4 separate regions of the Homo sapiens genome follow, and regions 1, 3 and 4 are each linked to region 2. Evidence: fine-mapped QTL for protein levels in blood plasma. A gene starts in region 2. Each other region holds a variant in brackets. All regions are shown on one strand. Distances are from middle to middle.

Region 1 (7,933 bases), 21 kb after region 2:
GGTGGTCTGGAAGGGGCTGCGGCTCCAGCACATGGGGTTGGGTTGTGTAGTCCTAGGTGGACACGCACATGGTCCCAGACTGTGAGAGGTGTGGTGGAGAGCCCTCACCTGCTCTTGGTTTTCCCCTGCAGGAGCCTGGGTCCAGGTGTCACCATCACCTGAGCTCCAAGAGGGCCAGGCTGTGGTCCTGAGCTGCCAGGTACACACAGGAGTCCCAGAGGGGACCTCATATCGTTGGTATCGGGATGGCCAGCCCCTCCAGGAGTCGACCTCGGCCACGCTCCGCTTTGCAGCCATAACTTTGACACAAGCTGGGGCCTATCATTGCCAAGCCCAGGCCCCAGGCTCAGCCACCACGAGCCTAGCTGCACCCATCAGCCTCCACGTGTCCTGTAAGGACTTTTGTCCCATCCAGGTGTGGGGGAAGGAATGCAGTCCCCCAGTCCTGGGCTGTGTCACATGACAGAGCCCTGGATGAGGGACCCCCCTGGCTGGGTCCTGACCACTCCCCACCCTGTGTAGATGCCCCACGCCACGTCACACTCACTACCCTGATGGACACAGGCCCTGGACGACTGGGCCTCCTCCTGTGCCGTGTGGACAGTGACCCTCCGGCCCAGCTGCGGCTGCTCCACGGGGATCGCCTTGTGGCCTCCACCCTACAAGGTGTGGGGGGACCCGAAGGCAGCTCTCCCAGGCTGCATGTGGCTGTGGCCCCCAACACACTGCGTCTGGAGATCCACGGGGCTATGCTGGAGGATGAGGGTGTCTATATCTGTGAGGCCTCCAACACCCTGGGCCAGGCCTCGGCCTCAGCTGACTTCGACGCTCAAGGTCAGTGTGTGTGTGTGTGTGTGTGTGTGTGTGTGTGTGTGTGTGTCCTTTAAAAGAGGAGAGGAGGTGGGACAGGGTTCTAGAAGCCTGGGGGCACGGGAATAGTCCCCATTCCCACCCTTCCTAACGATGGTGGACTCCAGACTTGAGTTTCTTAGGAGAACCTTTTATAAACACCAAATTTTACAAGTATGCCCAGTGGATAAAACTAAACAGGGAATTTCAGGAGAAAGTGCAGCAGGGGAGGGGAGGTCTGTGGTCTCCCCATTTGCCCCCAGCCAGGGTCAGGGAGGGGCTCAGGGCTTTCCAGGACTCTGTGGAACTCTACTTGGGACCACTCAGGAGCCAGTGGGCTATTCCCAAGCTTGACTTCTAAGCCACATTTATAGGTGGGCCACCCAAGGCTCCCAAAGGCCAAGGGGCTCCCCAGCAGTAGGAGTAGCTCACCCACATGGAGACAGGTGGCCTGCTGTACACAGCCTCAAGACCCTCACTGGTGTCCTGTGCCCTCCCTCTCCCCAGCTGTGAATGTGCAGGTGTGGCCCGGGGCTACCGTGCGGGAGGGGCAGCTGGTGAACCTGACCTGCCTTGTGTGGACCACTCACCCGGCCCAGCTCACCTACACATGGTACCAGGATGGGCAGCAGCGCCTGGATGCCCACTCCATCCCCCTGCCCAACGTCACAGTCAGGGATGCCACCTCCTACCGCTGCGGTGTGGGCCCCCCTGGTCGGGCACCCCGCCTCTCCAGACCTATCACCTTGGACGTCCTCTGTGAGTCTGGCTGGATGCAGGGTGGGACTCACAGGAATGACAGAAGCCCACAGGGATCACGGCATGGCCGGAACCCGACAGGTGTCCAGTGGGGAACTCGGTACCCAGTAGCTAGTGGAGCACTGGGCAAGGAGCATTAAGAGTAGGGGGCGCTGGGGTGAGTCCTGTCTGGGCAGAGGAGCAGTGCCTCAGACTGGGTGGTTGGGAGCCATAGGGGTGGGGAGCCAGGGCCCTCCTGAGTTTGAATGCCACCTGCAAACTGGCCTCCTGCAGGCTGCTGCCTGTGACTCCGTGTAAGCCTCTCATGCCCTGCAGACGCGCCCCGCAACCTGCGCCTGACCTACCTCCTGGAGAGCCATGGCGGGCAGCTGGCCCTGGTACTGTGCACTGTGGACAGCCGCCCGCCCGCCCAGCTGGCCCTCAGCCACGCCGGTCGCCTCTTGGCCTCCTCGACAGCAGCCTCTGTCCCCAACACCCTGCGCCTGGAGCTGCGAGGGCCACAGCCCAGGGATGAGGGTTTCTACAGCTGCTCTGCCCGCAGCCCTCTGGGCCAGGCCAACACGTCCCTGGAGCTGCGGCTGGAGGGTAAGGCAGGGCCTAGGCCAAGCCCACTGGGATGGAAGCCCACTGTGGTGTCCGGCTGGGCCCGGCTGATCCTGGCCTCCTTGGCACAGGTGTGCGGGTGATCCTGGCTCCGGAGGCTGCCGTGCCTGAAGGTGCCCCCATCACAGTGACCTGTGCGGACCCTGCTGCCCACGCACCCACACTCTATACTTGGTACCACAACGGTCGTTGGCTGCAGGAGGGTCCAGCTGCCTCACTCTCATTCCTGGTGGCCACGCGGGCTCATGCAGGCGCCTACTCTTGCCAGGCCCAGGATGCCCAGGGCACCCGCAGCTCCCGTCCTGCTGCCCTGCAAGTCCTCTGTGAGCAGAGGGTCCTTGGCCAGGGCTGCCCAGGAGGAGGGTGGTGGAGGGTGCTTCTGGGCTCTGGTGGGAGTGGGCAAAGGACTGCAGTGGGCCCAGGAATGGGCAGTTGGGGAAAGAGGACATAGGTGCTAGAGAAAGAGACAGTCCTATAAGCCCTGCCTGGAGCACTCTGCCCACAGGACTCCTGGGAAGGTGTCACTTCTAGGAAGTGGCCATTGGTCCAGAGGCCTCAGCCTGACCAACCCCAGGCAGCTAGGCAATGAGCAGTACAGGGTGCCTAAGCAAGGTCCCCATCTGTGCCCTGCCTGCCCACAGATGCCCCTCAGGACGCTGTCCTGTCCTCCTTCCGGGACTCCAGGGCCAGATCCATGGCTGTGATACAGTGCACTGTGGACAGTGAGCCACCTGCTGAGCTGGCCCTATCTCATGATGGCAAGGTGCTGGCCACGAGCAGCGGGGTCCACAGCTTGGCATCAGGGACAGGCCATGTCCAGGTGGCCCGAAACGCCCTACGGCTGCAGGTGCAAGATGTGCCTGCAGGTGATGACACCTATGTTTGCACAGCCCAAAACTTGCTGGGCTCAATCAGCACCATCGGGCGGTTGCAGGTAGAAGGTGAGTGGAAGAGAGGGGAGGAGGAGGGGCTCTGATGCTCTCAGGTCCAAGTCCACGAGAGGGGCTGGAGCTCCCACTAGAGCGGGCTGTCTGGTCTGAGAAAGCTCTGCCTTGAGAAGCCTAATCTGGTGGAGGGGGCACAGCTCCCACTGGAGGGGGCATGGTTCCACCTTGGAAAGCCCTATACCAAGTCAGACTGAGACCTTCCCACAATGTGCAGAGGCCCCTCAGAGGTCCCACCCAGAGGCTCCAGCCCCCAAGGCCTACAGATCCCCAATCATCTCTCTATCCTCCGCCCGCAGGTGCACGCGTGGTGGCAGAGCCTGGCCTGGACGTGCCTGAGGGCGCTGCCCTGAACCTCAGCTGCCGCCTCCTGGGTGGCCCTGGGCCTGTGGGCAACTCCACCTTTGCATGGTTCTGGAATGACCGGCGGCTGCACGCGGAGCCTGTGCCCACTCTCGCCTTCACCCACGTGGCTCGTGCTCAAGCTGGGATGTACCACT[G/A]CCTGGCTGAGCTCCCCACTGGGGCTGCTGCCTCTGCTCCAGTCATGCTCCGTGTGCTCTGTGAGTGTGAACCCCCTCCTCCGCCTTAGTCTCCCCACATCTCACACGCCCACCTCAGTTCTTCCTCCTCTTCTGTCTGCCAAGAGTGAAGGCTTCACGGATATTGAGTCCTGGGTTGGAATCCTGGCTCTCCCGCTGTCTGGTTGGGTGACCTTGTAAAATGGGGAATACATCATTCGCCTCATCCTGCAAGTTGTATAAGAAATAAATGGCTGGTGCAGGGGCTTATGCCTGTAATCCCAGCACTTTGAGAGGCTGAGGTGGGCGGATCACTTGAGGTCAGGAGTTCAAGACTAGCCTGGTCAATATGGCGAAACTCCGTCTCTACTAAAAATACAAGAATTAGCACGGCATGAAGGCACACACCTGTAATCCCAGCTATTCAGGAGGCTGAGGCAGGAGACTCACTTGAGCCTGGGAGGTGGAGGTTGCAGTGAGCCAAGATCACCACAACGCACTCCAGCCTGGGTGACAGACTGAGACTCTGTCTCAAGAAAAAAAAAAAAAAAAGAAAAGAAAAGAAGAGAAAAAACCAAAAGAAATAAAGCGTGCTGAGTGTGTCTGGCACACGATAAGCCCTCATCAGTCTTGGTCTCCCACTCCAGCCTTCACCAAGGCCTACACTGTATCAGTCAGCTATTGCTATTGACCACAACAAAACTTACTGCTTCAAACAAAAGTCATGTTATCTGCTCAATTCTGTGGGCTGGGCTCAGCTGGGGAGTTCTTCTGTTGTTCACACCTCATGTGGCTGCAGTTGCCCAGTGGTCTCAGATGACTGCACGCTCCTGGCTGCCAGTTGGGCCACATGTGCCCAGCAGGCTGGCCTGGGCTTCCCACATTGTTGTGTTCCAACAAGTAGAGCAGAAGCTACAAGGCCTCTTGAGGTCTGGCTCTGAAGTTGCACAACATCACTTCTTTCTTCAATTGGTCAAACTGAGTCACAGATTCAAGGAGTGAGGAAATAGGTTCTGCCTCTTAATGGGAGGAGCAGCAAAGTCACTGTGCATGGGTACAGGGAGGGAGAAATTTGTGGTCATTGTCTGCAATCACCACACTCCCTTCCTCCCCACAGACCCTCCCAAGACGCCCACCATGATGGTCTTCGTGGAGCCTGAGGGTGGCCTCCGGGGCATCCTGGATTGCCGAGTGGACAGCGAGCCGCTCGCCAGCCTGACTCTCCACCTTGGCAGTCGACTGGTGGCCTCCAGTCAGCCCCAGGGTGCTCCTGCAGAGCCACACATCCATGTCCTGGCTTCCCCCAATGCCCTGAGGGTGGACATCGAGGCGCTGAGGCCCAGCGACCAAGGGGAATACATCTGTTCTGCCTCAAATGTCCTGGGCTCTGCCTCTACCTCCACCTACTTTGGGGTCAGAGGTGAGGGGAGGGGGCTCCATCTCCCAGGCCACTCTGCACAAAAGCCCAGCTCTTAGGCCCAAAGGCTTCCTTCCCTGTATCCCTCCTGCTGCAGCATGATTTGCCTGTCGACTCTAAACTGATTGCTCGGGGCACCCTTGTGTGGAGAGCTTCAGCGATAAAGCAAAAGTTAGAAGGTGTCATCTTGGGTGGGTCCCCTTGGAAGGAAGCACTGGGGGCCTGCAGCTGTGGCTGCTCTGAGTCCCGCTCTGTGTTCCAGCCCTGCACCGCCTGCATCAGTTCCAGCAGCTGCTCTGGGTCCTGGGACTGCTGGTGGGCCTCCTGCTCCTGCTGTTGGGCCTGGGGGCCTGCTACACCTGGAGGTGGGTCTGGAGCTGGGAGTGGGCCAGAAGATTGGGGTAAGGCAGCCCACCTCGTCTTCTCCCCAAATTCCCCCAGGTCCTTTAGGACCTCCTATTAAGTTCACAGGCTGCCTACTTCCCAGACTGCCCCTCCAAATTGGAAATCCCTTCTAGAATTGTCCCTAAATCCTCCTTGCTGTAGTTTCCTTCTTTCCTCCTCTCTGCCCTGGCTGTGCTAAAGCAAGGGCTAGGGAGGAAGACAGAGGAAGCACCCACTCTCCATGAGGTTCCCACGCTCTTGTGGTCTGGAGCCAGCCTGTGGGGAGCGGGAGAGGAATGGGGGCAGGAGGTGGGGAGGGGAGAGGCTCTCTGAGTCCACTCCGGGCCTTGCAGAAGGAGGCGTGTTTGTAAGCAGAGCATGGGCGAGAATTCGGTGGAGATGGCTTTTCAGAAAGAGACCACGCAGGTATCCATTCAACACACACGGGCAGATATAATACCCAGCTAACCCACAGTGCCAACTGGCATCTGGAGACTGCTGTCATTTAGAGGATGGTGCCTGGGACCAAGGGGAGGTTGGGGAGAGTGTGCAGGGAACCAGGAGCCCCTCAGGAGATAGGAGAGCCCTGTTCTGCTCGGGGCAGAGGGAATCCCTGTGTCAGCTGGCGGCTGGCTTAGAGGACTAGGGGAGACTTTCTGGACTTGGCAGCATCCCCTCCATTTCCAAGACACGTATGTTCTGACTCCCCCACCTTTGTTCTGAGGCCTCTTCCCCACTCCCAAGCCTGCCCGTCACCTGGGCAGAAGTGAAAGTCAGTTTCTCCTCCCCTGTGGTGTGTCCCTTCTGCAGCTGATTCACCTGGTAGGCCAGGGCTCCAAGTCACACTTCCAGCCATGCACACTCCCACCAATCCTCTTGGGACCCCACCTGAGGCTGGGGGCCTGGGGGCCTGCCCTGGCTCCCAGAGGCCTCCTGTGACCAGGGTTTTCTCTGTGGGAAGCTCATTGATCCTGATGCAGCCACATGTGAGACCTCAACCTGTGCCCCACCCCTGGGCTGACCAGTGGTGTTGCCTGCCCTCCGGAGGAGAAAGTGGCCAGAATCTGTGATGACTCCAGCCTATGAATGTGAATGAGGCAGTGTTGAGTCCTGCCCGCCTCTACGAAAACAGCTCTGTGACATCTGACTTTTTATGACCTGGCCCCAAGCCTCTTGCCCCCCCAAAAATGGGTGGTGAGAGGTCTGCCCAGGAGGGTGTTGACCCTGGAGGACACTGAAGAGCACTGAGCTGATCTCGCTCTCTCTTCTCTGGATCTCCTCCCTTCTCTCCATTTCTCCCTCAAAGGAAGCCCTGCCCTTTCACATCCTTCTCCTCGAAAGTCACCCTGGACTTTGGTTGGATTGCAGCATCCTGCATCCTCAGAGGCTCACCAAGGCATTCTGTATTCAACAGAGTATCAGTCAGCCTGCTCTAACAAGAGACCAAATACAGTGACTTCAACATGATAGAATTTTATTTTTCTCTCCCACGCTAGTCTGGCTGTTACGATGGTTTATGATGTTGGGGCTCAGGATCCTTCTATCTTCCTTTTCTCTATCCCTAAAATGATGCCTTTGATTGTGAGGCTCACCATGGCCCCGCTTTGTCCACATGCCCTCCAGCCAGAAGAAGGAAGAGTGGAGGTAGAAGCACACCCATGCCCATGGTGGACGCAACTCAGAAGCTGCACAGGACTTTTCCACTCACTTCCCATTGGCTGGAGTATTGTCACATGGCTACTGCAAGCTACAAGGGAGACTGGGAAATGTAGTTTTTATTTTGAGTCCAGAGGACATTTGGAATTGGACTTCCAAAGGACTCCCAACTGTGAGCTCATCCCTGAGACTTTTGACATTGTTGGGAATGCCACCAGCAGGCCATGTTTTGTCTCAGTGCCCATCTACTGAGGGCCAGGGTGTGCCCCTGGCCATTCTGGTTGTGGGCTTCCTGGAAGAGGTGATCACTCTCACACTAAGACTGAGGAAATAAAAAAGGTTTGGTGTTTTCCTAGGGAGAGAGCATGCCAGGCAGTGGAGTTGCCTAAGCAGACATCCTTGTGCCAGATTTGGCCCCTGAAAGAAGAGATGCCCTCATTCCCACCACCACCCCCCCTACCCCCAGGGACTGGGTACTACCTTACTGGCCCTTACAAGAGTGGAGGGCAGACACAGATGTTGTCAGCATCCTTATTCCTGCTCCAGATGCATCTCTGTTCATGACTGTGTGAGCTCCTGTCCTTTTCCTGGAGACCCTGTGTCGGGCTGTTAAAGAGAATGAGTTACCAAGAAGGAATGACGTGCCCCTGCGAATCAGGGACCAACAGGAGAGAGCTCTTGAGTGGGCTAGTGACTCCCCCTGCAGCCTGGTGGAGATGGTGTGAGGAGCGAAGAGCCCTCTGCTCTAGGATTTGGGTTGAAAAACAGAGAGAGAAGTGGGGAGTTGCCACAGGAGCTAACAC
Region 2 (7,933 bases):
AGAGGGCTCTGGCACCCTCTGGGGGAGGCAGGAGGCTCTGCAGAGATACTGGCAAGGAGGTGGGCAGGGGCCTGAGGCTGGAATCTGGGTAGGTCCAAGGAATGAATGACTGAATTAAGGTCCTGGTTGCTCCACAGGAGGGCAGGGCTTCATCTCCCTCTACTTCTTAGCACTGGGCCCCCAGGATTCACTCGGGCACATCACCTGTTAGAATAAAGACTTAAGACCATGTGACTAACTTCTAGCTTCTAGTGGAATATAAGCAGCAATAAAGTGTACAATTTAAAGAATTACCTTTTTTGTTGTTGTTAAGAGACAAGATCTCACTCTGTCACTCAGGCTGGAATGCAGTGACACAATTATAGTTCACTGCAGCCTCAAGCTCCTGGGTTCAAGTGAACCTCCTGCTTCAGCCTCCTGAGTGGCTGGTATTGCAGGAGTGACCCACCACATCAGCAATTTAAGGAGTTATCTTAAAGTAGAGGGCATGGCCTACTTTGTCCTTTCCTCCATCCTGCTTTCCCGAATGCAGATACAGTGGCTGGAGCGCAAGCAGCCACTTTGGACAATGACTGGAAGCAGCCCATTGACAATGACTGAGCCAAAAAATAAAAAGGGATCTAGTTTCATGATTGTGGAGTTGTCATATCATCTTGGATGCCAACACTTACTTGAGGGAGAGGGTGAAACACTTCTATTTTATTTAAAACACCGTTATTTGGTGTTTTCTATACTTGTAGCAAAACTTATTTTTTTTCAACCAAAAAGTTTTGTCTTTGGCAAATTCTCTAACCTCCCTATGACTTGGTTTTCCTATCTGGAACGAGAATAATTCACTGGGTATGGTGGCTCATACCTGTAATCCCAGCACTTTGGGAGGCCAAGGTGGGTGGATCACTTGACTGGGAACTCTCAGGAGTGTGAGACCAGCCTGGGCAACATGGTGAAGCCCCATCTCTACAAAAAAATACAAAAATTGGCTGCGTCTGGTGGTACTCACCTGTAGTCCCAGCAACTTGGGAGGCTGAGGCAGGAGGATCACTTGAGCCTAGGAGGTCAAAGTTGCAGTGAGCCGAGATTGTGCCATTGCACTCCAGCCTGTCCAGCCTGGGTGACAGTGAGACCCTATCTCCAAAAAAAAAAAAAAAAAAGAAAAAGAATAATTGTTATTAGATGAATGTGTAACAGTGTGACCTACTGAGAAATTACATTTTTTAAAATATTTTGAGGCAGAGTCTCGCTCTGTCATCCAGGCTGGAGTGCAGTAGTGTGATCTCGGCTCACTGCAATCTCCACCTCCCGGGTTCAATCGATTCTCGTGCCTCAGCCTCCTGAGTAGCTGAGACTACAGGCGCCTGCCACCAGGCCCAGCTAATTTTTGTATTTTTCGTAGAGACAGGGTTTCGCCACGTTGACCAGGCTGGTCTTGAACTCCTGGCCTCAAGCGATCTGCCCACCTCGGCCTCCTAAAGTGCTGAGATTACAGGCGTGAGCCACCGTGCCCAGCCTACCTAGTTATTTTTATTTATTTACCTAGTTTGCTGTATACTCAAGGAAATGACAGGAAGCAGTGCTCCCTGACTAATCAAGGTAGACAAGTCTTTGCTCTCCTCATGCTAAGGAAAGGTAAGCAAGTTCTGGGTGTGTTGTTCTGGGACTTAGGCCTTGTATCATCTTGCTAATGTAGCCACAAAATTCTCAGCAGCATCCAGCAATAAATTCACGCATCCACAGGTTGACTGGTCTGGTGGACGTAGGCTGGGCTCAGCTGAGTTTTGTTTCAATCCATGGGTCTGATTCAGGTCATCTGCATGTGTTCGTCATCCTCTTTGGACCAGCAGGTTAGTTGGAGCCTGCCCCTTGCATGGCAATGACAGAAATTCAGGGGGAAAGGCAAACTGCTTAAGTACGTTTCAAGACTTAGTTTGTGTCATGTCCGTGCACATCCATTGGCCAGAGCAAGTCATATGACTAAGGTCAAAGTCAAGGGATGCTTTCCCACCATGAAGCCAAGGGGTGGATGTATAGAGTCCCAGTGGACTGAAGGATTGGTACCCATGTGTCACAACCCCACAGGCCTAGAGCTGGGTGTCTCCGGACCAGCTGTTGAGGGAGGAAGTAATGGGATGAACCCTTTGTGTTTTGGCCGAAAGAGGAAATGGCCCAAGCATAGGAGTGGACACAGGAGCTATAAAGAGGAACAGAGTGATAGAGACCTAATATCTCTGTAGCCTGAGCATTTCAGGGTGGAATGTCACCAGACATCTGCTTTGGGGCACCATGGCCTGCGATTCTGGATCCACCCTGATTTAGGGTTTCACATCCTTTTACACCTGCACACGTGGCCTTGCCCTCAGGGTACAGGGGCCTAATTTGCTGTGGCCAGCTCCCCACCAGTACAGGTAGGCAGGGACTGAGTTGAATTAAGTTTGAGTTGTGAAATTAAAAAAAAAAATGGCCAGGAGTGGTGGCTTACGCCTGTAGTTCCAGCACTTTGGGAGGTCGAGGTGGGAGAGTCACTTGAGCCCAGGTGTTTGAGACCAGCCTGGGAACATAGGGAGACTCCGTCTCTACAAAATAACTTAAAAAATTAGCCGTGCATAGTGGCAAGCGCCTGTAATCCCGGCTTCTTAGGAGGCTGAAGCAGGAGGATTGCTTAAGCCTAGAATTTCGAAGCTGCAGTGAGCCAAAGTGAGCCAAGATTGCACCAGGACACCCCAGCCTGGGCGACAGAGCAAGACACTGTCTCAAAAAACAAAAACAAACAAACAAACAAAAACCAAAAAAAGTCTTGTTGCTTGTATCTGGGATTGCTTGGAGCAATTAACATCTGCTTCACATGTCAAGTGCCTGCACAAACTAGGCCCTCAATAAGATGGGCTGCAGTAATGTAACAGTAACTAGCTGTGGTGGGGGCTTTCCTTTCCTGTCCCAAGGTGGGGGTGAAGGTATAGGATAGTGGCCGGGTGCAGCGGCTCACCTCTGTAATCCCAGAACTTTGGGAGGCCGAGGCAGGCAGATTACTTGGGGTCAGGAGTTCAAGACCAACCTGGACAACATGGTGAAACCCCGTCTCTACCAAAAATACAAAAATTAGCCGGATGTGGTGGTGCATGCCTGTAATCCCAGCTACTCGAGAGGCTGAGGCAAGATGATCACTTGAACTCGGGAGGTGGAGGTTGCCGTGAGCTGAGATTGTGCCACCGCACTCCAGCCTGGACGACAGAGTGAGACTCCATCTCAAAAGCAAAAACAAAACAAAAAGAAAAAAACCAACAACAAGAAGCCAAAAACCAAAAAACGTACAGGACAGTGAGAGGGGAAAGAGAAAACCTGAGGAGTGTCCTGGACATTGGGGCCTTATGTCCCCCACAACACGGGACTGCCTCTTGGGGGTTCTTAAGAGTACTCAGTGGTACAGGGAGGCTCCTGAATGGCTTGGAGAATAACTGCCTTGGTCTGGGCATCGTGTAGTGCATCCCCACCCCAGGCTGGGCGCGCCTCCCTCTCAGGTGTCAGGGAGGAGAGCTGTGTGCAGGAAGCCCCCTTCCACCTCCCCCAGCCTCCCTAAGGGGCTCAGAGAGAGTGGGGTGTGGATTTGGCTGGTGAATGGGAGTCCCCCACTCCATTTCTCACTTTGCCTGGGGAGGCTCCAGCGTTGCAGCGGTCCCACTTCTGCTTGCTGGAGTCCCTAAGTCCCTGGCCTTGCCGAGGGCCTTCCCCTATGGAGGTCTTTCCCGTTTTGGCATTGCGCAAGGCCTGCAGCTGCCTCCCTGACCAGCCTCTGGGTTGGACAGTAGAGCTGAGGCTTTGGGAAAGAGGAAGCAGCCCCTGATACGGGATCCTTCTCTCTTGAGCCGGCAGAGCCCTGGGGAGCCAGCTGCACCAGGAGCTCTTGGCCGTCCTTCCTGTTCTCCTCTCCGCAGGTCCAGCACCGCCGCAGCCACTTCCTTCTGTGGAGCAGGTACCCCTGTCCCTGGTCCCTGGGCCCAGAGGGTGAGTGGAGCATTAGGAGCGGGGCTGGGCTGAAACTGGCTGAGCGGGATAGGGGCAGGGGTCGGGGGGGGGCTCCATCTGGGTGCGAGTGGTGGACCCCAAACCAACCCAAGTCCAAGACACTAATCAAAGATGGACTCAACTGAAACCCTTCCACCACCCCCAAATCCTTCCAACCTGCATCCCAATCCCAGTCCCGACCATCACCCTGCTCTGACCCTACCTCAGCCCCAGCCCCAGCCCCTATTCCAACCTTATCTCACCCTCACCTCACTTGCACCCCAACCCTAACCATTTACTCATCTCATCTAATCCCAACCATCCATCATCCCAACCCTAACCACAACTCCGACTCTATCATCCTCATCTCAACCCAGCCTCCACCGTATCTTAACCATCACCTGCACCCAACTCCAACCTTCACCCTTACCCCCACCCATCACTCAACCTCAATGTCCACCCCAATCCCAGCCTTAATTTGCTTCCAGAATTCCAACCTGATCATCACCCTGACCTCAGCCCCAGCCCAGCCCAACGATAATCTCTCCTTACTCTAACCCCAGCACAATTCCACTTCATCCATCACCACTTCGTCCGTCCACAGGAGGGCTTCTGGTGCTGTCCAGCACAGTTTGGAGAGTGAGCACTCCAGCCAGAAGCATTTAGAGCCAGATTAAGGAATGAAGTGTGAAATTTCTACTGCCCATGTCAAAGCCAATAAGCATTAGTTATGGATTCTATGGCTCTGAGAATTAAACATTTGGCCTGTGATTGGGGATTTCCACTATTTTGACCATAATCTGCTCCAGGAATTGCCCATCCGTACCCTGACTCCCTATCTGTGGGCCAGTAACCTCCAGCTGGCCATGTCACCCTGTGTTCTTCCTTCTCTAGCCCAATGGGGAAGTTGGGGAGAAGCCTTGGTGTCAGGAAACAGAAACTGAATCCTACACCCGGGCCTAGCTGTCCATAGGGAAACTGCCTCTGCCCTTTCTTCCCCAGCTAAACTTGGCCTCTGGAATCAGAGGTCAGGGACTTGGGGCCCCAGCCAACCCTCCAAGACCTCCTGAGGCACTTGGTCTCAAACAGGCAGCAAACGTGAGTGCCCACTGTGTACCAGGCCAGCTCAAGCCACCCTGATGCAACACATACCAATAGTAGGAGTGGGGATTTAAAATCCTGTCTTCAGAGCACCCAAGACTTGGAGACCCAAGTATGAACCTCAGGAACCTCCTGTCTGGGGAACAATGATTTCCAAAAGAGTCACCCAAGGGAGGGATGGTTCAGGGCTGCAGAGCTGCCTGCTCCCTGTTGCTGGCACACCGCCCCCTTTCCCGGGACCCGCAATTCCCCCTCGACCACCAGGGGGCGCTGCGTGCTCACTAGGCCACAGCTGCAACCCAAGTTGCGGGGGGCGGGGGGCGGGGCACTGTCCCCTCAACTCCAGGCTTTCAAACAGGGACAGAGATCTCCTTTCTGAGCGGTCCCTGCTCTTTCTGTTTCCAGAACAGTTATCTGGGCTGAAGCTGGCCTTTGTGGTGACAGGCTGAGCCAATAGGCTGGATTCCGGTGGGGCTGACCCCTTTGGGGTTAGGGCCGGGCTAAGCATAGGTGGCCTCTACATTATGTGATGGGAGTGGTCCTGGAAAGGGTCCTCCCCCGCGCCCTGTTCCAGGGTCGCTGTGTCCAGAACCCCACCATTCTTCCATCAGGTTCACGATTGCCCTTTTCAGGACCCCAAATGGGAGGAACAGGGGAGCTGGGACAAGATAGCTGCCCTGGCCATAGCAGAGCTGACCCTGACATCCCCTGTGGCCAGGGACACATCTGACCCCCAGTGTGCCCAGCAGGCTGCTTTTCTTCACGGTGAGGTGTCCAGGTCCCAGGGCCCCAGCTATATCATTCTCCAGTGGCCAAGAACCTGGTGTGGAGGCTGGGGGTGCATCTTCCCAGAAGAGGAGGAGGCCTAGGGCTTCCTAGAGAACTGGAGATGAGCCCTTGGGCCTCCATAAATGGCCAGATCAGTCCACTCCAGCAGCCTGCGAGAGGGCTGGGTCCCCTGGGGAGCGGTGTCCTTCCTGTCCCAATCCCGCCCTGTACTGTGCCCCCTGCTGGGGCACCTTCTGCCTTCTGCAGCAGGCTAAGTCCCACCTGGTCAGCCTGACTGGCCCTGGGCCTCGGCTCACCCCCTTCCCAGGTGTGACCCCTGGTAGTCATTGGAATCTGCTGAGCCCAGCCCCTGAGGCGGATGGGCTGGGAGCTGGGAGGTCATGAGTTTCCTGTCCCCACTTCCAGCCTCCTCGTTCACTTGGCCAAGTCAGCATTTAGGACCAGGGAGGATTGCAAAGTTGGCAACATGGGTGTGTATGTGGTGAAATATACATAATGTAAAATTTACTGTTTTAACTGTCTTTAAGTGTACACCCCATGACATTAGGTACATTTGCAATATTGTGTAACCATCACCACTATTTCCAGAACTTTTTCATTATCTGAGAGACTCAGCAATCATTAAACATTAGCTCCCCCTCCCTGCAGCCCCTGGTTACCTCTATCCTATTCTACTTTCAGTCTCTGAATATACGTAGTCTAGATATTTCATGTAATTGGAACCCTACAATATTTGCCCTTTTGTGTCTGGCTGGTTTCACTGAGCATAATGTTTTCAAGGTTCACATATGTTAGAATTCATTCCTCCTTATGGCCGATTGATATTCCATTGTATGTACATACCACAGTTTGTTTATCCACATCCATTCACTGATGGACACTTGACCTGTTTCCACCTTTTAGTGGAATAGTGCTGCCGTGAACATTGGTGTACTCTGTTAGAGTCCCTGTTTTCAGTACTTTTGGGTATATACCTAGGAGTGGAATTGCTGGATCATATGGTAATCCTATGTTGACTTTTTGAGGAATGACCCAATTGTTTTCCACAGTGACGGAACCATTTTATATTCCCACCAGCAATACACAAGAATTTCAACTTCGCATCCTCACCAATATTTATTGTTTTCTGTGTTGCTTTGTTTGTTTGTGAATAGCCATTCTAACGGATGTGAAGTGGTATCTCACTGTGGTTTGGTTTTGATTTGCATTTCCTAATGCCTAGTGATGTTGAGCATCTTTTCATGTCCTTATCAGCCAGTTATATATCTTCTTTGAAGAAATGTTTATTCAAGTGTTTTGCCCATTTTTGGAGTTGGATTTCATGGTTTTTTTGGTGGTTGTTGTTGTTCATTGTAGGAATTCTTTATATATTCTGGATATTAGTCCTTTATCAGATAAATGATTTACAAATATTTTCTCCCATTCTGTGGGTTGTCCTCCTTTTATTCACTCTCTGGATAGTGTCCTTTGATTCATATCCTTTTTTTTTTTTTTTTTTTTTGAGACAGAAGAGTCTCACTCTGTCACCAGGCTGGAGTACAGTGGCGTGATCCTGGCTCACCGTGACCTCCGCCTCCTGGGTTCAGGTGATTCTCCTGCCTCAGCCTCCCGAGTAGCTAGGACTAGAGGTGCACACCACCACACCCAGCTAATTTTGTATTTTTAGTAGAGACGGGGTTTCACCATGTTGGCCAGGATGGTCTCAATCTCTTGACCTTGTGATCTGCATGCCTCAGCCTCCCAAAGTGCTGGGATTACAGGCGTGAGCCACCGCACCCAGCTGTTGTTTGTTCTTTTCAGACAGGGTCTTGCTCTGTCACCCAGGCTGGAGTGCAGTGGTGCAATCATGGCTCACTGCAGCCTCGACCCCTCCCCTGGGCTCAAGCGATCTTCCCACCTCAGCCTCCAGAGTAGCTGGGACCACAGGCCTGTTTTTTAATTTTTCGTAGAGACAGAGTCTTGCAGTATTGCCCAGGCTCGTCTTGAACTCCTGGGCTAAAGTGATCCTCCTGCCTCAGCCTCCCAAAGTGTTGGGTTCACAGGCATG
Region 3 (7,933 bases), 13 kb before region 2:
GGTGGCTCCCAGCTGGTCACCCGGGCCCACCTGCTTATTCATGGGGATAGGAGGTGGGCAGCTCCTGGGCCACCCCTGTCTCTAGTGTCCCTCTACCCCAGTGCTGAGGGGTGAGCTTCCTTCCAGGAATTCCTCTGCCTGCCCCACCCAGCTGAACTTCCTCCAGGTGGCCAATTGCCTCAGGCTGCATCATCTTCCTCCCTGGAAATGGGACTGTGAGAGGCTGAGCTGCTCCCAGTTGCCTGCAGGAGCCTGGTGGCCCAGGGTTCAAGGCTCAGCCTTGGTGGCTCCCTGCTGTTGCTGCTCTGTCAACAGCTGGTTCCTCCTCCTTCATAAAAAGAAAGCCTTGAGGTCCCACCTTCCTGCTGAACCTCCCCAATACCCTGTCCCAAATGGCACCCAAAGCCAGGTCCAGCCAGGATTGGACCTACCTCCCACACCTCTGTACTGACCCCCCCACTTTTGGCTTCGTCTCCCAGTGTGATGTGAGGGTTCCCAGCAGACAGGTGGAGACTTCTTGGAGGAGGTGGCTCTGGATCTGAGCCTGAGGGGTGGCTGAGAGTATACCACATGGAGGAGCGGGAAGGGCACTCCTGGTGGAGGAGATGGTACAGACAAAAGTGCAAAGGGTGGCACGGGCAGGAGGCAGAGTGGAGCCGATGTGCTTGGTGGCCAGCCGGTTGAAGGGCTGGGTGACTTTGCCCCTGGTGCTTTCAGTAGAGACCTGCCCTTGTGTCCTACTCTGCTGACATTCTGTCCCCTTGGACAAGAACTCTCAGCTGCATTTGCTCCACCTGGACATCTTCTGTTTGGGGTTTTCAGTGTTTCCTCCAGACCAGCTGGAAATTCAGCTTCCTTGTACAATTCTCTCTGCTCACCCTTGACTGAGCTTGGGTGAGACCTCCCCTTGCCAGTGAGCCCACCCCACAGAATTGCCCCTCTGCTAGGGTATGGGGTACAGAAAAGGAACAAGACTAAGGGAAAGGAAATGTTAGGGGGAGATGCTCTTTTTATTTCAGCCACATCAAGCATGAGGAGGTTGTGGGGCTGCAGTGTAGCCAATGCTGGTTATCCTCCCCCAACCCAGTCTATTCTCATTTTCCTAAGAACAGAGCGCTCTCTTTTTAGTCATGCATACGGTAACCCAGCAGAAACAGTATATTTCCCAGCCTTTCTTGCTTCTAGGTGTTGCCACGTGACTAAGCCTGGCTAATGAGATATAAACGGAATTGTTATTTAGCATCTTCCAGGAACCTTCCTTGAAACAGCTGGAGGGCGCCTGTGGTTCCTCCTTCCTCAGCCTGTTCTTCTCCATTCTGTTGCCTGGAATGTCAGTGGGAGGACTGGTCCTTCAGTCACCACTTTGGACAGTGTGGTTGAGGGACACACCCTGGAGATAGCAGAGGGGCAGCCTGCAAGGAGGCGGAGCCCCCCAGCAGTATCCCTATTCCAGCCTAGGGCTGTGTACTTCCAGACTTTTCAGCACAAGAAAAAGAAAGTCTTTTGTTTAGGACTCTGAATTTTCAGTCTCTGTTAGTCACAGCAGAATATAATCCTATCTGATTCGATCCCACAGAGAAAATGTTGACTAGGCAATTAGTAGATGGGTCTGGAGCTCAGAGTGGAGTTTGGGATTGCGGGTAGAAATTTGGCAGTCGATCTCCTGGAGGTGGAAATTGAAGACACGAGGACGATGAGCTCACCCAGGCGGAGCGTGTGGTGTGAAAGAGAAGGGAAGGGAAGAGAGGGAAAGAGATGAGCCTGCTTCCCTCTGCCCACTGCCCCCATCTTTCCACAAAAGAGGATTCTGGCTTTGTGTGCTCAATTTCATCCACCCCCTTCCAATATCATAAGAGGAGGCTTCTGCCTCCCCAGAACTCTGCTTGGTTTTTATGATGCAGAATCAAAATGGAGTGGGTTTGAGGGGAGGACAAGAAGTGGATAGATAGGTTGGGGGAAGGTTTTTTTGAGTTTTTAAGGAGAAAACGGTAAAAGCAGCTATGGTGTGTGGTAAAGCAGATAGGAGAAGAAAAGGAAGGGGCTTGAGAATGTGTTGCCATTTAGTATGAGTATCCTTTTGACAGTATGTCAGAAAACATGCAAGCCAGGCAGGGTGCAGTGGCTCACGCCTGTAATCCCAGCACTTTGGGATGCCGAGTCAGGTGGATCACAAGGTCAGGAGATCGAGACCATCCTGGCCAACATGGTGAAACCCCGTCTCTACTAAAAATACAAAAATTAGCTGGGCATGGTGGTGTGCGCCTGTATTCCCAGCTACTCAGGAGGCGGAGGCAGGAGAATTGCTTGAGCCCAGGAGGCAGAGGTTGCAGTGAGCCAAGATCGCGCCACTGCACTCCAGCCTGGGTGGCAGAGCAAGACTCCGTCTCAAAAAAAAAGAAAAGAAAACACACAAGCCAGATGTCGTGGCACACACCTGTAGTCCCAGCTAGGAAGGAGGCTGAGGTGGAAGGATCGCCTGAGCCCAGGAGGTTGAGGCTACAGTGAGCTGTGACTGTGCCACTGCACTCCAGCCTGGGTGACATAGGGAGGCTCTGACTCTAAAATAAATTAATTAAATAGAAAAAAAAGAAAAGAAAAGAAAACACACAGAACTTGACATTTGTTGCAGCTGTCTTTTTTTTTTTTTTTTTTTGAGACAGAGTTTTGCTCTTTCACCCAGGCTGGAGTGAAGTGGCATGATCCCGGCTCACTGCCACCTCTGCCCCCTGGGTTCAAGCAATTCTCCTGCCTCAACCTCCCAAGTAGCTGGGATTATAGGCGCTCGCCACCACACCCGGCTAATTTTTATATTTTTAGTGGAGAGGGGGTTTCGCCATGTTGGCCATGCTGGTCTCGAACTCCTGACCTCAGGTGATCCACCCACCTCGGCCTCCCAAAATGCTAGGATTACAGGCATGAGCCACTGTGCTTGGCTGCAGCTGTCTTTTGGCTGCTGTCTTCTCATAACACCACTCTGAGACAGGTCCACTTGGTTAATGATGTTAGTTAAATGTTCCACAAGTAACAAAAACTCATTAGAGCACATGAAGGAAAGGAGAAGTTGATGTCAAGGATCCAGGGTTTGTATGTAGGGGCAGGTGGGGACATCTGGGCTTCCTGAGGGCTGGGAACAGGGAATTGAACATATGCCAGGAGCCTGGGAGCTGCCACCATGACCACTTTCCTCTCCCTGTTGTTCATGGACTCTCCTCTGTCCTGCTCTCCTGCTAACTTCATCTTCTCTTGCTGCAGATTGCCTTTTAAAATTTTATTGTATTTTTATTTATTTATTTTAGAGACAGAGTCTCACTCTGTCACCCAGGCTGGAGTGCAGTGGCACCATCATAGCACACTACAGCCTCGAACTCCTGGGCTCAAGAGATACACCCTGCTCAGCCTTCTCCCATGGTGCTGGGATTACAGGCGTGAGCCACTGCCCCAGCCAGACTGCCTTTTAAAAATGGACATTTTAGACCAGGCATGTGGTTCAACCCTGTAATCCCAGCACTTTGAAAGGCTGAGGCGGGCGGATCACCTGAGGTCAGGAGTTCTTGACCAGCCTGGCCAACATGGCGAAACCCCATCTCTACTAAAAATACAAACATTAGCCAGGCGTGGTGGCGCATGCCTGTAGTCCCAGCTACTTGGGAGGCTGAGGTGGGAGAATTGATTGAACCTGGGAGGTAGAGGCAGGAGAATCGCTTGAACTAAGGAGGCAGAGGTTGCAGTGAGCAGAGATTGTGCCACTGCACTCCAGCCTGGGTGACAGAGCAAGATTCCCTCTCAAAAAAAAAAAAAAAATTGACTTTTTATTTTATTTTTATTGTTTTCTAAGAGACTTTATTTAAAAAAAAAGTTTTAGATTTATAAAATTATTGAGCTGTAGTACAGAGTTCCCATGTATCCCCTCCCTCACACGCAGTTTCCCCATTATTAACATCTTGGATTAGTGTGGTACATTGTTAAAATTAATGAACTAATATCAATACATTGTTGACTAAAGCACATAGTTTACATTAAGAATCACTCTTTGTGTTGTACTTTCTATGGGTTTTGACAAAAGCATATCATGGATCCACCATTATAGTATCATATAGAATAATATCACTGACCTAAAATTCCCGTGCTCCACCTATTCATCCTTTCCTGTCCCCAGAACCCCCGGCAACCCTTGATCTTTTTACTGTCTGTAGTTTTGCCTTTTCCAGAAAGTCAAATAGTTGAAATCACACAGCACGTAGCCTTTTCAGACTGGCTTCTTTCATTTAGTAATATGGATATTACTTTTTGTGGCTTGACACGTCTTTTTTTATTGCTTAATGCATATTAATATTACTAAATGCATATTTAGTATGCATATTACTTTTTGTGGTTTGCTAAGTCTTCTTTTTATTACTTAATGATACTCCATTGCACAGATATACCACAGTTTGTTTATCCTTTCACCCATTGGAGAGCTTCTTAGTTGCTTCCAGTTTTTGGCAATTATGAATAAAGCAGCTATAAACATTCTTGCGCAGGGTTTTGTATGGATATAAGGTTTCTCTCTCTCTTTTCTTTTCCTTTTTTATTTCTTTCCTTTCTTTCTTTCTTCCTTCCTTCCTCCCTTCCTTCCCTCCCTTCCTTCCCTTCCTTCCTTCTTTTCTTTTCGTTTCTTTTCTCCTTCCTTCCTTCCTTCCTCTCTCTCTCTCTCTCTCT[C/G]TCTTTCTTTCTCTTACTCTGTTGCCCACGCTGGAGTGCAGAGGCATAATCGTGGCTCACTGCAACCTCAAACTCCTGGGGCTCAAGTGATCCTCAGCCTCAGCCTCCCCAGTAGCTGACACTACAAGTGTGTGCCACCACATGTGACTAATTAAAAAAATTTTTTTTTGTAGAGACAGAGTATCACTGTGTTGCCAGGACTGGTCTGGAACTCCTGGCCTTGGCTGAGCACAGTAGCTCACACCTGTAATCCCAGCACTTTGGGAGACCGAGGCAGGCAGGTCACTTGAGGTCAGGAGTTCAAGACCAGTCTAGCTGACATGGTGAAACCCTGTCTCTACTAAAAATATAAAAATTAGCTGGGCATGGTGGCGTGCACCTGTAATCCCAGCAGCTACTCAGAGGCCGAGACAGGAGAATCGCTTGAAGCCGGGAGGCAGAGATTGCAGTGAGATGAGATCACTCCACTGCACTCCAGCCTGGGTGACAGAGCGAAACTCTGTCTCAAAAGAAAATAAATAAATAAATAAATAAAAAGAAAGAACTCCTGGCCTCAAGCAATCCTTCCTCTTTGGCCTCCCAAAGTGATGGGATTACAGGTGTGAGCCACTGTGCTCGGCCCTGGATATAAGTTTTCACCTCAATTGGGTAACTATCTAGGAGTGTAATTGTTAGATTGTATGGTAAGACTATGTTTAGTTTTGTAAGAAACTGCCAAACTGTCTTAAAAATGGCCATACCATTTTACATTTCCACCAGCAACGAATGAGAGTCCTGTCACTCCACATCCTCACCAGCATTTGGTGTTTTTAGCATTCTGGATTTTGACCATTTTAATAGGGGTTTAGTGGTACCTTGTTGCTTCAATTTGTAATTCCTTAATGACATCAGGTTAAGCATATTTTCATATGCTTATCTTCCATCTGTATATCTTCTTTGATGAGGTGTCTGTTCACATCTTTTGCCCATTTTTTTTTTTTGAGACGGAGTCTCACTGTGTTGCCCAGGCTGGAGTGCAGTGGCGCGATCTTAGCTCATTGCAACCTCCCTGGTTCAAGCTATTTTCCTGCCGCAGACACCCAAGTAGCTGGGACCACAGATGCACGTCACCACGGTCGGCTAATTTTTGTATTTTCAGTAGAGACGGTTTCACTATGTTGGCCAGGCTAGTTGAGAACTCCTGACCTAAGGTGATCTGCCCTGCTCGGCCTCCCAAAGTGCTGGCATTACAGATGTGAGCCACCGCCACCATGCCTGGCCCGTTTGTCCATTTTTTAATGGGGTTGTTTGATTTCTTAGTGTTGGGTTTTAAGAGTTCTTTGTGTATTTTGGGTCATCAGATATTTGTTTTGCAAATATATTCTCCCAATCTGTGGCTTGTTTTCTTATTCTTTTAACAATTGCTTTTTTGTTGTTGTTGTTGAGACAGAGTCCCACTCTTTCGCCCAGGCTGGAGTGCAGTGGTGCAATCTCGGCTCACTGCAACCTCTGACTCCCAGGTTCAAGCAATTCTCATCCCTCAGCCTCCCAAGCAGCTGGGATTACAGGTGCACACCACCACGCCCAGCTGATTTTTGTATTTTTAGTAGAGACGGTATTTCACCATGTTGGCCAGGCTGGTCTCGAACTCCTGACCTCAAGTCATCTGCCTGCCTTGGCCTCCCAAAGTGTTGGGATTACAGGTATGAGCCACTGCACCAGGCCAACAAATACTTATTTATTTATTTATTTATTTATTTATTCTCCATGTATACGACCGTTCCACATCTCGTGAATTTAGTTGCCCAATTCCAGCTACCAGCAGATTTCAAATATAGCTAACCCTTGAACAACATGGGGGTTGGGGGCACTAATCCTCCTCATCATCAAAAATCTGTGTATAACTTTTGACTCAAATACTTAATTACTAATAGCCTTCTGTTGACTGGAAGCCCTACTAATAATATAAACAGCCAATTAACATATATATTTATGCATTCCTGACCTACCTAACTCTGTTTCAGTTTTTTTTTTTTTGATATTTCTAGCTATGTGGTTTGTGAGTTTTTTCAAATTGTCACATCTCTCCAAAATTTTTTTCAATATGTTTATTTTTTTAAAAATCTGTGTATAAGCAGACTAGCACAGTTCAAACCCATGTTGTTTAAGGGTCAGCTGTAGTGTCTCTTAGTCCCAATTCTAATATTTTTAGAAGAGACAATTATTGACCAGTTTGGTGAAGTGGAGAATCAATGATGGCTGAATGAGGTGGTAGCATTAAGGTAGCTGGAAGGGAATCTGGGTGATATAAATTTAGTTTTCTAGCCTCTGCAGTACAGGAAGACGAACTGGAAGGAGGCAGGAATGATTGCTCAACCCTCCATATAAACACAGCAGTTGATGCCTGGTGGATGGTTGGGGGCTGTGGATATGACGTAGTACATGTAGGTTAAAAAAAAAGTTCAACATATACAGAGAGATGAAACAAAATGCAAAATTTTCTACCCCGCAGTTCCACTCTTCCGCCCTCTTTTCATTTTTATATATTCTGGAGTTTTCTTCTTCTTCTTCTTTTTTTTTTTTTTTTTTTGAGAGAGGGTCTCACTCTCATTACCCAGGCTGGAGTACAGTAGTGAGATCCTGAATAACTGGGACTACAGGTGTGCACCACCATGCTTTGCTAATTTTTTGTATTTTTTTTTTTTTTAGTAGAGATAGGGCTTCATCATGTTGCCTAGGCTGGTCTCAAACTCCTGGGCTTAAGTGATCTGCCCACCTCGGCCTCCCAAAGTGCCAGGATTACAGGTATGAGCCACCGCGCCCAGCCTTTTCTGGAGTTTGAACATCACTCCTCTAAACAATATACTTTATCTTTGTTTCTCAATTTAGTAACTCAAGAGAGCATCTACTGACACCTCATCATTAAAGCAGGGAATGGAAATCACCCATTCCCATCTCCCCGCCCATGTCTGTTTTCTCAGTTTTGTTTGCTGTGTGATTACTGGAGTCCTGTGTTGGTGCTACTTATAGTTCTAAACAATCTATATTTAAAATTTCGTTCCTCATACATCAATTTTAGAAAGAATTTCTTGAGCCCTATCACTATGTAAGAAAAATTGTGCCTCCCCCAGCCCCAGGTCACCTGCCATCTCCCTCTAATTTCTGCTGTCTACTTTTCTTTTCTTTTCTTTTCTTTTTTTTGAGATGGAGTCTTGCTCTGTTGACCAGGCTGTAGTGCCGCGGCGTGATCTTGGCT
Region 4 (7,933 bases), 22 kb before region 2:
TGTTGGGAAGCTCTGTGGGAGAGGTACATTGCACAACCTGTAGGTGGGTCTCAGTGCCTGCTCGGGTGAGTGGGTGATGGGTCAGGGCAGAATGGTGGGGGTTCTTACCGATGTACAGCCCCTGCAGGCCCATCTCCGGGACAGCCAACATCCTTGCAGGCCCTGTAGCTGTCAACAGGAACAGACAAGCAGAGTGGGATTTATTTGTCCCTTTGTTCCCTCATCTGAATGCTTATTTATTTTATTTGTTTACTTTTGGCTGGAGTCCTTTGAAGCAAATCCCAGCCATCATGTTGTTTCACCCGTGAACTCTTTAATACATCTCTCCAACAGATAAAGACGTTTTAAACAATGTCATCGCAACACCATTCTCATGTCTAATGAAATTAACAGTAATTCCTTAAATCTCATCTAAAGTCCCACAGTTCCCAGCTTGTGTCAAAAAATGGCTTTACTTTCTTGGAATCAGGATCCTCCTAAATGTTTTCTGGTGCCTGCTCTGTGCCAGGTGCTGGGAGATAGTGACCCAGAGAGACACTGTCCCTGCCCTAGAAACCAACGGTCTGATGGAGGAGATAATCAGGCAAGTGATTTTGAAATGACAAGCGTTGCTGAGTGCTAGGAAGGTCAAAGTTGGATAATGCGGGGTGGGAAGAGGACATGGTAAGTCTGGACAGAGGGCTGGGCTGGGCTTACCCTGCAGGCAGGGCCTGTGCACCCTATTTCAGATTTGATTTTATATGAAGGGCAACAGCAAATCTTGAAAGGTTTGAGGTGGCAGGGTGGGGTGGGGGCATGACTCAATTTGTCTTTTCTTTTTTCTGAGACAGGGTCTCACTCTGTTGCCCAGGCTGGAATGCAGTGGCACGATCTTGGCTCACTGCAACCTCTGCCTCCCAGGTTCAAGCCATTCTCCTACCTCAGCCTCCTCAGTAGCTGGGATTACAGGTGAGTGCCTCCATGCCCAGCTAATTTTTGTATTTTTAGTAGAGACGGGGTTTCGCCGTGTTGGCCAGGCTGTTCTCGAACTCCTGACCTCAGGTGATCCGCCCACCTCGGCCTCTCAAAGTGCTGGGATTACAGGCATGAGCCACCGTGCCTGGCCTTCGTTGTTTGTTTGTTTTGAGATAGGGTGTCACTCTGTCACGAGGAGAACCTACATTTAAAGGCTGAACAGAGGAATATATACCGGCCCAGGAGACTGAGATGCCTCATGGTCTCATGAAGATTGTACCAAGAGATGGGTAAAGCTAGATCCCTGTAAAAGGTCCCCAGATGAGACTGGAAACACTGTTTTAGTGGCCCAAGGGAGGTAAGCTTAGGTGAGGAGTGAGCAAGAGGTGACATGAGCTAGAACTTCTTTTCTTAAGATGGAGTTTCACTCTGTTGCCCAGGCTGGAGTGTAGTGACGCAATCATATTGAGCTAGAATTTCTGAAAAGCTTGGCTGAAATCAGGAATACATGTGAGGGCAGTAGTTGGAGGGCGCTAAAGCTGAAGGGAGGTGAGGAAGAATATTTATTTTCTAAGATGGGAGGGGCTCGATCCTGTCTATGAAGTTCTGGGGCCAGGCTATAGGCAGGATATTTCAAACCATCAACAGCTTTGTTACTCAAAGTGTGGGCTGAGGATCAGCAGCATTGGTATCACCTGGAAGCTTGTTAGAAATGCAGAACCTCAGGCCCCAGCCCAGACCTGCTGAATCAGAACATGTATTTCATATTTATTTATTTATTTATTTATTTATTTATTTATTTATTTATTTATTTTTGAGGCAGAGTCTCACTCTGTCCCCCAGGCTGGAGTGCAGTGGCGTGATCTCAGTTCTCAGCTCACTGCAATCTCCATCTCCTGGGTTCAAGTGATTATCCTGCCTCAGCCTCCCAAGTAGCTGGGGCCACAGGCATGCGCCACCTAATTTGCCTAAAATGCCACCTAAAAATGCCTGGCTAATTTTTGTATTTTTAGTAGAGTCGGGGTTTCACCATATTGGCCAGGCTGGTCTCGAACTCCTGGCCTCAGGTGATCCGCCCGTCTCAGCCTCCCAAAGTGCTGGGATTACAGGCGTAAGCCACCGCGTCTGGCCTATTTTAACAAGATTCCCAGGTGATTCAGGTGCACATTGAAGTTTGAGAAGTGTTGCTCAACAGTGTCTCTCAGCCAGTCTGCAGACCACTGACACTATGTTCTCATTGGTGGGCCTGGCTGCTCCTCTAAACAAAGGAGGAGGCTACGCAGGGCCAATGCATTCCTTCTCTGTCACCAGCGGCCCAATCTGAAAGTTTTGCTATAGAACACAGGCAGACACAGAGCTGGCTCTGGCATGCCCATAGACACATGCACACACCCTTGCTCACACAGTTCACACAAACCAGCCCCATTGTGGACAGACACCTGGACTCCCACACACTCTTGTATGTCCAGGATTCTCCTGCATGGCCAGCACCATGGAGATTTCCAGACACTCTTGCTGTCCTCTGTACCATTGGAGTTGGATGCTCAGGAATCAGAATCAGAAGAAGGATGGGTGCTGGTTGTGGGCATGCATATAGCAGCTGGCTGTTGAGGAGAAAAGGGAAAGCACAGAGAGGGGGAGGGGAGGGTTCTTAGGAGCCAGGGGCAGGAGCCCAGAGCCCAGCTCAGGATGATGGAGTGGGATGCTGAGCTGGGTCCCACCAGCTCATGCGAGCTGATTCTTTCTATCTCTTCCCAATTCTGCATTCAATGACATCACATTGGTAGCTTCAAATCAGTCATGGCTGGGAGTATTTACAAGACAGAAATTGGCAAACACCATAAATCAGGATTTTATCCTTCTTCCAGAGCTGATTGGAAACCATTAACCAGCATACTACTGGATCAAGGTCTCGAGGGAGGAGCTGGCAGCCTTATTTGTATGTTGTTCTGATTCTTCAGCAAACACTTATCGAGATTCTTCATGCCAGGCTCTGTGCTAAGCACTGGGGAACCACTTTGTTGAATGAATGAATGGATTTTCTGGACCGAGGCTATTGTATCTGGAGGAGAAACAACCTAGAACCACCAGAAAAAAAAGACTCTGGGCCGGGCGCCGTGGCTCACTCCTGTAATCCCAGCACTTTCAGAGGCTGAGGCAGGTGGATCACCTGAGGTCAGGAATTCGAGACCAGCCTGGCCAACATGGTGAAACCTTGTCTCTACTAAAAATACAAAAATTAGCCAAGCGTAGTGGCAGACGCCTGTAATTCCAGCTACTCAGGAGGCTGAGGCAGGAGAATCGTTTGAACCTGGGAAGCAGAGGTTGCAGTGAGCCAAGATCGCGCCATTGCACTCCAGCCTGGGCGAGAAGAGTGAGACCCCATCTCAAGAAAAAAAAAAAAAAAAGACTGAGTCCTCGCTCTACACTGGATTCCACATCCAAACCATGGGCCTATACTCTTCCCAGCTATCGGAAGCTTGTCCAGTTATCTACCGTCTCTCATTGTGCGATATGCTGAGTGCCCCTATGCTGGGGTTTCAGGGATGGCAAGAGCCTATTATGGCACCTAGCGTGAGTGCATCATGCCACATCTCTGTGCCTCAGTGCCCTTTCCTGTAGAATGGGTGACACAGAGGGCTTATGTTAACAAGTCCAGATATGCAAGGTATTGATAAAAGCAGGGAGTTGGGCAGGTTTGAGCAGTGTTCTTTCCCTTCATGATGCAGATTCTGAATTTTCTTGTTAGATATTTTGGTCTTACTGAGAATCGCATTCTAGTCATCATGAGTTCTTTAAGGAAGGAGGTAGGAACTAAATCAATCTGTGTTAAGGGCTGGGTGTGGTGGCTCATGCCTGTAATTCTAGCACTTTGGGAGGTCAAAGTGGGTGGATTGCTTGAGCTCAGGAGTTCGAGACCAGCCTGGGCAACAGCAAAACCCCATCTCTACGAAAAATACAAATATTAGCCCAGCGTGGTAGTGCATGCCTAGAGTCCCAGCCACTTTGGACGCTGAGGTGGGAGAATTGCTTGAGCCCGGAAGGTTGAGGCTGCAGTAAGTCATGATCACACCACTGCACTCCAGCCTGGGTGACAGAGTGAGACCCTGTCTCCAAAAAAAAAAAAAAAAAAATTGTGTTAAAGAAGGAGGATCCCACGGATTCCCCGAGAGGTGGAGGTAAGCCAAGAGGTGGCTGACTGCCAAGCGAGCACACACACCCAGGGACACTTAAGGAGAGTGCTGACCACAGAACACGGGACAAGCCCAGCTCCCGAAAGCTAGGTCTGGGCAGAGTCCACAGCTGAAAATGAGGGGAGGCTGAGCCCCGCTTCAGGGGCCTACTAATTTCAGACTGGTGGTGCCTATGGGTTTGAGAGTAATTGAGTGGGACAGTTTGATTTACACAGAAAGGAACTCCATTTCCTGGCTACAAGCACATGCCAAACTCTGGCCCCAGCCTGATCCCTAACCCTGCCCATGGACTGACCCCTAACTCTTGGCTTCATATTGACCTCTAGTCATCAGCTTCACCCTGACCCCTGGCCCTGACTTCTACCCAATAGGCAGGGCCGATTAGTCACTGGGGACCAGGATAGGGTGTGGCCCAGCAGGAACTCACAACCAGAGACTCCCATCCCAGAGTATCCCCTGGTCTTACAATAGCCTAGGACGAACCCTGCCCCCACTCCCGCTCCTTTTTTTGAGACAGGGTCTTGCTCTGTTGCCTAGGCTGGAGTGCAGTGGCAC[G/A]ATCACGGCTCACTGCAGCCTCGACCACCTGGCCTCAAGCGATCCTCCCACTTCATCCTCCCAAAGTGCTGGGATTACAGGCGTGAGCCACCTTGCAGGGGCCCAACCCTTTGCCTGACAGAATCCTCGGAGGATCTCTTCCTGTGTGGGGTGTTTCAGCTGGGCGCTCATGTCCCCAGGAGCACTATGGGAATGCAGTGTTCTGGGTTTCAGGGCTCCACACGATGCCTGTGTAGACAAAGAGCCCACCCAGGTCATTCCAGCTCCCCTCCTCACTAGGACCCTGCCTCTTCCGCCTGCTGCTCTCTGCTCAGCACCCAGCCAGCCCTGTAATGGAACAGGACTCCGTCAGCGGGCTAAGTGAGGCCACAGGCGTTTCTTCCAAGCCACAGACTGGGCCAACCAGGGCCCAAAGCACAGATCAGAAACGGCACCCAAAGGGCTGCCCCACTCTGTTCTGGAGAGGAGCCCTTAAGAAGATGGGACCATGTGTGGCTGAGTGAGGTGGCTGCCCCATCCTGCGCTGGGGCAGGGAGTGACAGAAATGGCCTCCCATGGCCCCTCCCTGTCCTCATCTTTGCTTTCCATACATCCTGCCGCACCCCCTTGGGTCCTCATCATGGGAGCAGCCAGTTCACAAACAACAGAGCCCCTCCCATGCTCTGCCCACAGCCCCCCATTACCCCTCTGGCCTGGGATTCCTGCGCTGCGTCTGCTCTCCGGAGGGTCCCTAGTTTCGTGATCACTCCCTTCCAGTCTCTCTCATCAACACACGCTAACCTCACAGATAGGCTCCACTGCCCTAGCGGGAACCTGGACCCCACCCCACCTGGACCTCAAGCTGGCCCGGAAGACCAGGTCCCAGCCTCAGACCCTGGCACCTGGGCCACTCAGTACTCTGTTGCGCTTCGGGACCACAGGGCCTGGGACCCCTGAGGCACCCCCCAACACACACACATACACTCAACTCCCAGGTTTCCACCTCAGACCTAGGCACCGGGTCCCTCAGTTTGGCTCCCTGGAGCAGGCCCCAGCCCACACCAGTCCTGCCAGCCCCTAAGACACAGGAGTTTCTCCAGCCTAAGCCTCTGAGCAGCTGTGCGAGGGACAGGGGAGGTGGTCCCCCGAAGCCCAGGTGGGAGACCAAGGTCGCTGCCCCAAGTGCCTTCCCGAGCCCGCAGCCACGCTGCAGAGAGGGGCTTGCAGATCTGTCCCCACCAGACAAAGTCTGGAGGTTTTTGGTGGGGTCTCAGCCGACAGCCCGGGACGGCAAACCTCCTCGCCTTTCTCCACTCGGGGCGCCCGGCAGCCCCCGCCCCAGAACTCACCTCCGCCCTCCCGACAGCTCCAGCCCCGTCCAGCCGCCGCGATCCCGGGCCCGCAGCTCGTTGGCCGTGCCCGCTGCGGCGGCCGCAGCCCTCGACGTGCGCCCGGCCCTGAGGCCTCCCGCCTCCTCGCGCCGCCCACCCCGCCCGCCGCCCCCTCCCCCAGGCCGGATGGCCGCGCCGCCTGCGCCGCCGGGTCGGCCCGCGCTCCCGGCCCAGATGTGCGAGGCCGGGGCGGGGCCTGCCTGCGCGGGCCTCCGCCGAGGGGCCCAGCCTGGTCCCGCGTCCAGGGCCCCTCCCTGAGCCCCTCCTGCGCCTCCCCCGCTCCCCTAGCAGCCCAGGGGGTGGGAGAAGGGAGAGGGGGCGGCGGAGGGAGGGGAAGAGGAGTTCCAGACCCTGGTCGGCCTCCTGCGGTCCAGCTGCTGAGGGGCTCCCCCGCCCCGCCCCCACAGGCCCACCTTGGGGCTCAGCCTCGGCCCCTTCAGCGAGGGCCCAACAGCGGAGGGGGAAGGGCCCGCCCTAGACCCCTCCACTTCCCTGCCCCAGACCCCTCCAGTCCCTTGACCCGGAACCCTCTCTCCTCCCACCCCTACTGCCCCTACAGCTTCCCTAGCCCGGTCCTCAGTGGCCAGAAAAGAGGCAGAATTGCGGATGAGGGCAGGCCCTCGGGTCCCCAGGCTAGGCCTAGCTCTGTCTTTGCTCAAGTTCAGACGACGGAGGCGCGGAGTCTCACAGACTGAGGCCCCATGCCCGGCAAGGGGACCACTCCGCACCAGGGGGCACCCAGCCTCTCCTCCGAGGCACACAGCCTTTTTCTTGTCCTAACCGGGGCCCTTCTGGGGATGCTGGGACTTGGCCTCCAGACAGGGGGTTTGTGGGGTGAAGGTCTCTTTCTGGGCTGGGAACCCGTGGCTCATGCCTGTAATCCAGCGCTTTGGGAGTCTGAGGTGGGAGGATGGCTTGAAGCTGGCTGGGCAACAAAGACCAGCCTGGGCAACAAAGGGAGACCCTGTCTCTAAAAAGTTTTAAAAATTAGCCAGGTGTAGTAGCTCACGTCTGTAGTCCTAGGTACTCAGGAGGCTGGGGTGGAGGATTGCTTGAGCCCAAGAGTTTGAGGCTGCAGTAAGTGTGATCACACCACCGCACTCCAGCTTGGGTGACAGAGAGAGAACCTGTCATAAATAAATGAATGAACGGATGAATGAATGAATTTCTGCTAGGTCCCTCGTGGAGCTTTCAAAGGCAGCTGACTCGTTCTGCCTGTTCCCCTTCCCCTCTGCCCCATGTGCCCCCACAGAAGTTCCAGATGCTTCTCAGTCCACCTCCCTTTGTGCCTGGGAAGGCTGCCCGTCAGAGAAGGGCCCCACAGCCCCATCAAATGAGGCACAGTTCTTGGGACATCCCTTTTGCTCTTCCACTCCAAACCTTTGCAAGGGCTATTTTCCCTCCCTGAAATGCTCTCCTTCCTCCTCTCTGCCCAGCCAAAATGCTCCCCAGCTACAGTGTCACCTCCCTAGGCTTGCTGCCTTTCTTCTCAGAGCCACTGCCCCAGAGGGCCTCCTTAATGAGGTCAGGCATGGTGAGTGCGCTGCACCAACAATTCTGGATACCAAGCCAACATGGTATCCAATCAGCAGTCTCCACAGGCCGCCTCCCAGTGTGCGTCTATGTGTGTCCGTCTGTGCATCTGTTGGTGTGTTTGTGTCTGTGCTTAAGTGTGTCTTTGTATGTGTAAGACTTTGCTTATATGTCTGTTCATGTGTGAGTGTGTTTCTTGGATTGTCTGACTGTGTCTGTGTGTGCGCTAGTGTGTGACTGTGTTTCTGTATTACGTGTGTGTGTTGCTGCATCTTGTGTCTTTGTGTCTGTGTGTAACAGGGGTCCTTGGTTGGGGCCTGCAGGCCT

Which allele goes with the higher level. Alleles are on the strand shown, and positions count from the first base shown. The strength of an association depends on the size of the effect and on how common the allele is.
As copies of G replace A in region 1, the plasma level of the protein whose gene starts at base 3,834 in region 2 goes up (moderate association).
In carriers of allele C in region 3, the plasma level of the protein whose gene starts at base 3,834 in region 2 tends to be higher than with G alone (strong association).
For the plasma level of the protein whose gene starts at base 3,834 in region 2, A is the low allele of the variant in region 4 and G is the other (weak association).

Evidence for each region. PIP is the posterior inclusion probability: the model's chance that the variant is causal. The UK Biobank Pharma Proteomics Project read protein levels with antibody pairs (Olink). The fine-mapping took linkage between variants from a reference panel, not from the people measured, so its PIPs are less certain.
Region 1: its variant is fine-mapped to the plasma level of the SIGLEC1 protein (UK Biobank, PIP above 0.99). The variant lies in the coding sequence of SIGLEC1. If it changes the protein, the assay may bind it differently, which can mimic a change of level.
Region 3: its variant is fine-mapped to the plasma level of the SIGLEC1 protein (UK Biobank, PIP above 0.99).
Region 4: its variant is fine-mapped to the plasma level of the SIGLEC1 protein (UK Biobank, PIP above 0.99).

Annotation. Positions count from the first base shown.
Region 1 is chr20:3,687,122-3,695,054 of GRCh38, reverse strand. It overlaps SIGLEC1 (sialic acid binding Ig like lectin 1), which reads left to right. Exons shown (of 22, transcript NM_023068.4): 12 at 132-392; 13 at 523-834; 14 at 1,357-1,608; 15 at 1,924-2,193; 16 at 2,283-2,534; 17 at 2,853-3,152; 18 at 3,455-3,715; 19 at 4,791-5,093; 20 at 5,353-5,455; 21 at 5,828-5,900; 22 at 6,436-7,933. The coding sequence ends at 6,495. Among named protein-coding and RNA genes, the nearest start is that of ADAM33, 9.1 kb to the right of the region's middle. The variant G/A (reference allele first, on the strand shown) is at 3,656.
Region 2 is chr20:3,708,501-3,716,433 of GRCh38, reverse strand. SIGLEC1 (sialic acid binding Ig like lectin 1) reads left to right here and starts at 3,834. Exons shown (of 22, transcript NM_023068.4): 1 at 3,834-3,964.
Region 3 is chr20:3,721,234-3,729,166 of GRCh38, reverse strand. No RefSeq gene overlaps it. Among named protein-coding and RNA genes, the nearest start is that of HSPA12B, 7.5 kb to the left of the region's middle. The variant C/G (reference allele first, on the strand shown) is at 4,699.
Region 4 is chr20:3,730,893-3,738,825 of GRCh38, reverse strand. It overlaps HSPA12B (heat shock protein family A (Hsp70) member 12B), which reads right to left and starts at 6,141. Exons shown (of 13, transcript NM_052970.5): 1 at 6,032-6,141; 2 at 109-168. The coding sequence starts at 151. RefSeq lists an enhancer at 5,500-6,079. The variant G/A (reference allele first, on the strand shown) is at 4,704.